Linked DNA regions of Homo sapiens. The protein of the gene in region 1 interacts with the protein of each later gene in a biochemical or structural test. Each region holds a gene or a part of one and is shown on either strand. Other genes may lie near its edges.

Evidence for each region.
Region 2: the proteins of APBA1 (region 1) and RAMP3 interact in a test that uses a peptide from one of them, tested with the Homo sapiens proteins (one large-scale study listed by IntAct).
Region 3: the proteins of APBA1 (region 1) and LPAR1 interact in a test that uses a peptide from one of them, tested with the Homo sapiens proteins (one large-scale study listed by IntAct).

The regions. Positions count from the first base shown.
Region 1 is NC_000009.12:69,426,968-69,429,295, forward strand, and holds the end of APBA1 (amyloid-beta A4 precursor protein-binding family A member 1), read right to left. Parts: 3' UTR 565-2,328; downstream 1-564. UniProt on the Homo sapiens protein: Putative function in synaptic vesicle exocytosis by binding to Munc18-1, an essential component of the synaptic vesicle exocytotic machinery. May modulate processing of the amyloid-beta precursor protein (APP) and hence formation of APP-beta.
Region 2 is NC_000007.14:45,174,786-45,178,443, reverse strand, and holds part of RAMP3 (receptor activity-modifying protein 3 precursor), read right to left. Parts: intron 1,136-3,658; coding exon 1,003-1,135; intron 1-1,002. UniProt on the Homo sapiens protein: Accessory protein that interacts with and modulates the function of G-protein coupled receptors including calcitonin gene-related peptide type 1 receptor (CALCRL), calcitonin receptor (CALCR) and G-protein coupled estrogen receptor 1 (GPER1).
Region 3 is NC_000009.12:110,940,813-110,944,470, forward strand, and holds part of LPAR1 (lysophosphatidic acid receptor 1), read right to left. Parts: intron 1,357-3,658; coding exon 609-1,356; coding exon of another isoform or gene 529-608; exon of another isoform or gene 1-528.

The DNA.
Region 1 (2,328 bases):
AAGCAGTCTGCTTTGGAACAGGGCTGGACACTCTGTGTTGGGGAGTCCAGGGCCCCCAGCATGCCCCCGGCAGCAGGGAGGGCATGCCTGGCAACCTTCAAAAAGTGAATTTCCAAAGAGCACCAGGAGGAAACCTTCCAGAACCTTCTCACAGAACCTTTGGATGGGCCTCTCAGGGCGCTGTTTTCCACCGTCCACTTAGATCTTAGTCCCTTACAAAAAGGTACCTCCCTTACGGGAGATGACTGAGGTGGGGGAGAATTAATTCCTGTTTTCCTGCCCTCATGGAGGATGTCAAGTAAGAAATCCGGAGAATTTCTCTTTCTCCAGTTCAGTGTGCTCAAAGGAGACCCACAGGACTGGAGGATCAACTGGGACAGGAGAACAGAGCCTTTCTTGTCTAAAACCAAGTCAGTTCCACAGAATAAAAGCTCATTTAGAGAACTCCTGGGCTCTGGGCGCCTATAGGGTGGGTAGGAGCTAGTCAGTCAGTCTGTTAGGGAAAAGACAAACTCATCACATGATCCCAAGCCTTCCCTGCAACAAGAAGACACTTGGCCAGGCCAAGAGGTGAAGTTCTTGTTTATTGTTGCAGCAACTCTTATACAGACATTAGCGTTCAGTTAAATAAAGGAAGATAGATAGCACAGTAAATACATCACAACCCCAAACTGGATGACTGTGGCCACGGGACGGAGGAGGGAGGGAGGGAGGGACCAGTGACCAGACTGTCAAGGAAGTACATTCAGTGGGTGTGCGGTGTCCACATTCCAGGCTCACGTGTAGATATATTTTATTTATATATTTATTTATATTTATATATAGATCATTGAGTTTTGTGTATACAAAGAACGATATTGTTACAAATACAATACTATACTTCTCCCGACACTTTACAATAAGCTCTATTTCACCCTCTTTACAGAACAATAGTACAAGTTCATACTCTAGGTGCTGTGCTAAGTATGTACAAGAAATGTCATTCCCACACAGTCCTCACACACTGCCTTGATGGAGGGGAAGAAAGATCGAGTTGTGTGCTCAAGTCAACCTAGGCCAGGGAAGGAGACACATGAAACTCAAACCAACAGGTGGCCTGTGAATGCGAGTAAACACATCTAAGGAGGGGCGGCCCCTGGTTGTAAACATTGGTAACGGCTACACCACTGGGTCGAGGGACCCGGGAAGGGCTCTGTAGATGGTTTTCATCTGTGTGCGGGAGGTGTTGGTGCCCACAGGGTGAGGGGGGCAGAGGAGCGATGGGGGAGGTAGTAGGTTACTCTGGGACTCCCTGAAGGCGGTGTTGATGGGCAATGTTCAGAAAGCAAACCCGTGCACAGGGACCCGGCACCCCTGCCATGCACTCCTAGGAGCCTGCTCTGGCGAGGGAAGGTGTCGCTGGAGAAGTGGGCTCCAGGCATTGGTCTTTGGGGGTTTCTTCCTCTCATGAACCCAAGGCTGATGGTGGCTCCCTGAAATGCTCACACTGGAGAAAAGGCAGGATGGGTTCTGGTGCCTCTGCCTGGACCAGGAGGGGGAGGTGAACGTGGGAGTCCAACCCCAAAGCTGAGCCACCAGCACACCCTGGTGGAGCAGCCACAGCAGCTCTGTGCCCTCACAGCGTTTGGGAAGGCTGCCCTGTACATAGCCTTCCCATTACATGGGGTATTTAGATATTTACATGTATAACTATATATACTGGGATGACAGAAGGGAAGACCACCACTTCTCTTGGGACTTTCAAAAAATCTAGCGACTTGCTTTTAAGACTGTGGCTGCTGAGGTGACCATACCTAGGCTCACTCCCTTGCCCCAGTGGTAGTGGGAAAAAGAACCCACTTCAGCTGGGTGGACCTGTACCGAGCTCCAGCAACTTCCACTCACTGGGTGTGAAGACACACCTGGATTAACACAAAAGAATGTGGCAGAGAAATCTTCTCACTCTAATGTTACAATGTCAGTCCTCTAGGAGAGCTTGCAGAATTGGCTTTTTCAGCACCTCTCAAAGTTTACAAGGTTTTTGTGCAATAGGAATAGAAAGTATATTCTCTCCTTTAGGTGAACATACATAACCGTTATGTGCAGGTTGTACAGGGATGCACTACTGGAGTTCTGTCCCCTGGCCAGTCGTGGGCGGGCCTCTGTGGCACTGCCCAGGTGCCTAGGGACAGACAGGCATGGGCCCCTACGATGATTTTCCAAGGCTCCTGATGCCTGAAATACCACCAGTAACACTTCATTCCTGTTCTATCCACTCTTATTGGCAGAGGAAAGATGAACTGGCTGATGACTCTTTAGTGTCTCACTGTATCACCAGATACTCTACAG
Region 2 (3,658 bases), on another chromosome or scaffold:
AGGGGCTGGGGTGCTAACATGCAAAAGCATGAGGCCAGCACATTTAGGGTCTGGCAGCAGCCACCAGGGGGTGGCACAAGACTGCAAAGCCAGAGGTGGAGTGGGGTGGGGCAGAGGACTGTGAGGCCATGAGCAATTTCCAAGGAGGTAAGGAGATGAAAAGCTTGGGAAGCTTCTAGAACAAGGGGACCTCCCTTCACTATGAGGTGTTGTCCACAATTACACCTGATATAAACCATTGGAACCCAATTCCTCTAAGTCCTCTGACCACTGAGGACAGACCCAGCCATGACTGGTGCTGTAAGAAAGACACATGACAATGTCCACCCAGCTCCAGCTGTAAGGAGAGGTGGAGCACCCTCCAGGCAAGGCATCCCCCAGGCCAGGGCACCCCCTGGGGTAGGGCAGCACCCACCCCTGGGAGAGTGCACCCCCCAGGCCAGGCCACCCGCAAACTGGACACTCCCCGGGCAGGGCACCCTCCAGGCAGAGCACCTCCCAGACAGGGCACCCCCAGGCCAGGGAACCCCCGAACTGGACACTCCCAGGGCAGGGCACTAATCTGGATCAGGAGGAAAAGCAGGCATGGGGAGGATTCCTAAATAACAGAGGAGAGGGAGAAGCAGAGGCACAGTGTAGAATTGCTAGAACATCAGAGTGAGGATGCGGAATGGGGGGTAGGAAGCTGGGAACCCGCTGTGGGTGTGGGGAGCACAAATGCCGTGGGCAGGGGCACGGCATGGGCGGGGCCGTGAGTGATGTGCCAGGGGGATGTGGGTGGGGTGGCCAGAGCCAAGAGCAGAGTGTGAATAGGAGCGTGGTTGGGGCCCTGGGCAAAGTGTGGGGCAGCACATGAAAGGGCTGTGGGTGGCCTACGGTGGGTTGTGGGTGAGGCATGGGTGAGGCCTTGGGTAGAGTGCGGTCAGGCTGTGGTCAGGCAGTGGTTGGGCAGTGGGCAGCGCTGTGGTCAGAGCAAATCCCACGCCCAGCAGTGGCACTCACACGATGAACTCGGACAGGTTGCACCACTTCCAGACGTCCACCTTGCCCATCATGTCTGCGAAAGCCTTCCCACACAGGGGCAGCCTCTCCAACATGCCTGTCTCGTTGCAGCCGCCTGCTCTGGGACACCCACCTGGAGAGGGGACAGCCATAAGAATTCCACTACAGTTCACACTGGGGATGCCAGGACAGGGGAGGCCCAAGGGGCCATAACTTGAGTACTCACTAGCAAGGCTCCGTTTGCAAGCCTGAGACCGTTCCAGCGGAGTCCTTCACCCTCCACCCTGACCTACCTGTCAGTGCAGAAAGGAGGCTCCACACAGGGACCTGTCCCCAAGACAGGACAAGTCCACCTTTTCACTTCACCGCCTCACAGGCAGTGGCACAGGCAGGGATCAGGCAGTGAGACCCTGGGCCAAACTCCTTGGGAGGTGGTGAGAGGGTCTCAGGCAGATCAGGGCTGGCAAAGAGGCTCCAGTTCCAGCTTAGGAGTCCCAGGGGCCTGGGAACATCCTGAGGACTCTAAGACCTGGGGACCATCCCACTGCCTGCAGGGGCGGCAGAGGAGGGCTCCAGGCCAGTAAAGACCAACCCCTCCCGGTCAAAGACCCCCTCCAATTCTGGGAAACCAGGGGCTGAGGCCACTGCAGGGACTCATGTTCCCAGCAATGGGAATGAGTCCTTTGGACTTTCTCAGGGTCTGACACAAGCTGCTTGTCCCAGGATTTCCCCACTGCCCTTCCCAACCTCTGCCCACCAAAACATCCCCTCCCCTTCCTCCTCATGCCTTTGCTCCACACATTTCCCCATGGGGAACATCCTCCCTCCCACTGAGCAATGCCCCCTGTCCTTCAGGGCCTGTCTCCACGGTCATCCCATTTCCAGACGACAGGACCTCCCTGCTCCTAAACTTCCCTCACCTGACCTCTGCTTTGGTGCTCATCATATACTCAAGAGAGACCCCAGGCATATGTGTCTCGGGTGTGTGTGTGTGTGTGCACGCACAGCCCTGCTGTCTGTGTCTTGGTGTGTGTGTGTGTGTGTGTGTGTGTGTAGGTACACAGCCCTGCCATCTATATCTTAGTGCATATGTGTATGCATACATGAGCATGTGTGTACACAGCCCTGTCATCTGTGTTCCGGCGGCTGGTGCTGGGCTAGAGGAAATACCATGAAGAAGCAGATAAGAAAATGGTTCCAGATTGACATGGGACAGACCTGGCTCACACCCACACTTCACTGGTTACCAGCTCAACCTCAGTTTCCCCATCCGCAAGATGAGGGATACAGGCCCCACCTCACAAGGAGGTTGAGCTGGCTAACTTAGTCTGAAATGCTCAGTGCCACCTCCAGGAACGTATCATTCATTCATTCCCTCAATAAGTCTTGGCTGAATGATAGAGAAAGCAGTGAGCATTTCAGAGTCTGATCTTCTTCCATGTGTGGCTCACCCTGGGCACTGAGCAAGTGCTGAATAAGTCACTTTAATATGGAAATGGCAGGTTTAGACAGGACCACTTTCTGGTGCAGGGACCTGCTCCACCAGAACACAGCGCCCCAGACACTCCTCAAGAGTCATAGCCTGCTTAATGCTAACATTAGGGAAGACCCTGGAAGCCCCTTGGTTGAACAAGCGTCTGATGCCAGCAAAAGGGAGTGGCTTGTCTAAGGCCAAAGGAAGGCTGGAGGGGTCCAGATCCCAGGGTTAAGGGAACTGTCATGCTCAGCCCACCCCCACCTGCAGCAGAACACCTGGAGCACATACAGAGGACAGGTGTTAGCTGGAACCCCACAGAGGAGAACACAAAAGGGCTTGCCAGCTGTTCAGGGTCGTGGGTTCCCAGACTCAAGGCACCTTCTTCCCTTCGTGACTGCCCAAACCTATACCTCAGAATCCAGGCTGACAGCACTGAGAAGGGCCCCTGGGGGTCACAGCTGGTAAAGTTGGACAGAGGACTTGCAGGTCCCAGCAGGTGGTCTGAGAAGCCTGTGTAGGCACTCACATCTCCCCTTCTGTCCATGCAAGCTTCCCCAGGACCCAGGGCATCTTGAGGCCCCAGAGAACCCTGGAGATGGGAAGCACACAGGCTGTGGCTCAGTGGTCAGCCTGCTGCCATGTGTAAGCAGATGGCAAGGACACAGGCTGGGTGAAGTCACCACCATGGCCCCTGGACACAGGGTCAGTGACTGGCTCTCCCAGAACAGGTGTTTCAGGGCCTTCTGGCCACTCTGCATGGTTTCCAGCACCTGGAATGTCCCTGACCCCCACGTTCGCTTGTCTCATCAGCACAGCTGCAGGCCTGGATTCTCTGAAAGGCCACACATCCCACTTAGGGCCCCAACCCCTGAGTGAGCCTCTGGGGTGCTCACCTCTCTTCACAGAAAGGCCATGTGCTCATTCTGTGTCTGTCCCATCCCTGCATGTAGCACAGGTCCCCCACATGGTCCCACAGGGTCTGCACATGGAGATGGTGGCTCAGTACCCACTGTCAACCCAGTGAAATTTATCCAAAGATTTAGCAAAACATCCTGGACCACCGCTATCATGTGTTGCGGACTGTGTTGGATCCTTGGACAAGGGGAGAGGGAGAGGGTCTGGTTCCTGTCTTCAGGACCTGCCATCTGGGTTCCAGGGGGCAAGAGGAAGACACAGGGA
Region 3 (3,658 bases), about 42 Mb from region 1:
TCTTGCTCTTCACCTTGAAATATGAATTAACCTCCACTACTACAAATAGAAAATTAATAGAAAATAAGGAAGTTTTCATGAAGATGACTGTCAGAGAATATCATTAATTCCAATCTGTTTTGTTCAGTAAATCTATATAAAACCTTGATATACTACCTATAATGTAGCAACAATTACAGAATAGACTAACAAAAATAACTATATATGGAAGCATATTCATATTCTACAAAAGCACTTTCTGTCTGAAAATATGTAATACAGAAACCACAATGCAAAAGTTTCACAATTTAGGCTGTAAGAAAAATGAATGAGTTTGACTGGTAATTCTGGTATTTTCAATATTAGATAGCCAAACTCTTCAATGACATCTTTTACATCATCATCATTTATACTGCACCACTGGGACCCATGTTTCCCTAACGCTAATTCTATAATTTTAGGAAGACTCATAAGCTGACATTTAATATAAAGGTGCCTCATCCCCTTGTAATTCCTGGTGAATTACCTGGTGAATATTCATACTGTTGGTTACCTCTGACATAAAATAATGTGGTTTATGTTAGTCACTGAGAATCTATAAAGTAAGTTACAGTCAAGACAGAACTTACCAAGCACAATGACCACAGTCTTCAGAAGACTCATCATGGTATCCCGATTCCGCCGGGGTCCAGAACTATGCCGAGACATTCTCATAGTCCTCTGGCGAACATAGCCAAAGATGTGAGCATAGAGAACCACCATTACCACAAAGGTCACCAAGTTGAAAATGGCCCAGAAGACTAAGTAAGAGTCACTGTAGAGGGGTGCCATGTTGGAACAATTTTCAATATCACAGATACAGTTCCAGCCCACACTGGGTATAGCACCCATAACGATGGCCATAGTCCAGATGACCACAATGACCACCACTACCCGCCGGTTGCTCATCCGTGTGTGGAGCTGCATGCGGAAAACCGTAATGTGCCTCTCGATTGCAATAGCCAGTAAGTTGGCCACAGATGCCGTCAGGCTGGTGTCAATGAGGCCCTGACGAAGGAGCCATGTGCTAACAGTCAGTCTCCGAGTATTGGGTCCTGTGTTGAACATGAGATAGAAGTAGGCCAACCCAGCAAAGAAGTCTGCAGCAGCCAGATTAGCCATTAGGTAATAAATAGGAAAATGGAAGCGGCGGTTGACATAGATTGCCACCATGACCAATAGGTTGGCCAACATGATGAAGATACAAACAGTGATTCCAAGTCCCATCACCAGCTTGCTGACTGTGTTCCATTCTGTGGCAAGATGCTTTCCACTTCGGTTATAAAAGAAGGCAATGGACTCGTTGTAGAAGCACTGTGGTTCATTCATGGCTGTGAACTAAAAGAAAAAGGAGAAAAGATGATGAAAAAGAAGGCACAGGTCCAAATTTAAAGCTTATATAGATAACACAAGACTTTTATAGTACATGCAACAGAAAAACAAAAGCAAATAATTTGAACATTTGATCCTGCATACCATCTTGTGATTATGTTGAAACTCCAAGGTTTCTCACAATATTACTGTCCTTAAGATTAAAGGCAGTTGGAGTTAAATAAATGACAAGGTCTCTGCTTAGTGGTTTTATGTCATTGAAGTCTACTACAAAAGCCACATGGCCAAGAAATCTTGCTTAAAATACATGAGACAGACAAAAATTTTGCAGAACATTGCAATTGGAATATTTACCATAGTAAAATCTATTTGACCTGTTATTTAGGGAATCTGTAAACACAGTTGGTTTCTAGATAGGGTATCATTGCCCTATTATTCTGCATTTCTATTCTCACACAGTATGTTCCATGTGGGACAGACATTTTGTAATGCAGGTTCCCACAAGGACCATCATTCCAAACATTTCAAACAAGTCACTGTGCATCAAAGGTTTTTTGCCCAAAGCCAGCATTTGCTGCTCAACATTCCTGTGGTCAGCACTGCCTACCCCCACAACTCCTTAAGTTCAGAATAGGACTTGTCAACCAATCTATGACATTTGAGAATTTTTTTTCTTTTTGGAGGACCCAACGTAACCTCCAAAGAGTAGGTGACCCTTTGACAATGTTCTACAAGTAAAATATACTTAGATTAGATGCAGCATATTTTTTAAAGTGTGGAGTGAAAATGCTTTATAACATGTTTACTTATTCTTCAACATCATTGATAAGAATATATTTGCTTATTATTTACAATATTTATAATAATCACTTTAAAAAGGATTGAGACAGTTTAAAACAGAATAATATATGTTTATTTATCTATCATAATATATAATATATAATTATATATAATTATAATATGTAATTATATATAATAATATATTTAAACAAAATTAGAAAATAAGTAACAAACTAGAAATTAGAAAAGTATACATCACATAGAGTAAGTCATTCTTCTTGAAGCTCTAAGTTTACCTGGGACCCCTAAAATTAAAAAATATATCTTGAAGACGGTTCACATTCTACTTTTTCATTTTTATTTTGCTTTGAATCTAATAAATTACCCAAAACATATGACACTTTTAACCACTATTTTTGATCAAATATTCTACTGAATATCCATAGGTTGTACACTAAAACTTCCAAGAACAACGTGAAATACTTAAGTGGTTAGTCTTCTGACTTACCCAGGCATCTAAAGTCTCTTTCCTTATCTAGACTTTAATAGCTTTTAGATTATGCTTCAAATATTATACTTAATACATTGTATAATTATTTATCTCTTTACTTGTCTGCTTCTTAAAGAGATCACAGTCCAGGGCACAGTGGCTCACATCTGTAATCCCAGCACTTTGGGAGGCCAAAGTGGGTGGATCACTTGAGGTCAGAAGTTCGAGACCAGCCTGGCCAACATGGTGAAACCCCCTCTCTACTAAAAATACAGAAATTAGTCAGACATGGTGGTGGGCACCTGTAATCCCAGCTACTCAGGAGGCTGAAGCAGGAGAATCGCTTGAACCCGGGAGGTGGAGGTTGCAGTGAGCCAAGATCATGCCACTGCACTCCAGCCTGAGTAACAAAGCAAGACCCCAACTCCATCTCAAAAAAAAAAAAAAAAAAGACAAAGTTGATCAAGCTGTTTCCCCACTGGACATGTTTTAAGGGCTTATGAGTGCACGTTAGATAAAAGTCTAAACTTTTCAATCATCTTATCAGACCTTACTTACCTGCCTCTCCAGCCTCAACTCAAGATATTAATGACTCCAAACTCTCAGCTTCAGCTCTATTTAATGTGCTGTGCTCTCTCTCTCAACTCTGGTTCTCAACAGTGAAAACAGTGGTTTCTTGTATCAGAATTACCTGAGAGTTTGTAAAACACTGATTGCTGACATAACCCGCAAGAACTTCTGATTCAGTAGATCTGAGGTAGGGTCCCAAGTAATGCCAAGGCTGCTGGTCCAGGGAATCACTGTATCATAATTGCTTAATTATCTGTTGATCCCCTCTACACTAGGCTATGAAACCCTATAAACGCAGAGATTCTAGCTTGCTTATTCATTGTTGTATAGTATCCAACTGTTCTATGGACTACATGCTAAATACATATTGATTTCCTTAATAAATTAAAGATATTTCCAAAAATGTTTAAACTTTACAAATTTTCTTTCTGCAAAGGATATTTAAAACTTTGTCAAGACAAATATAAA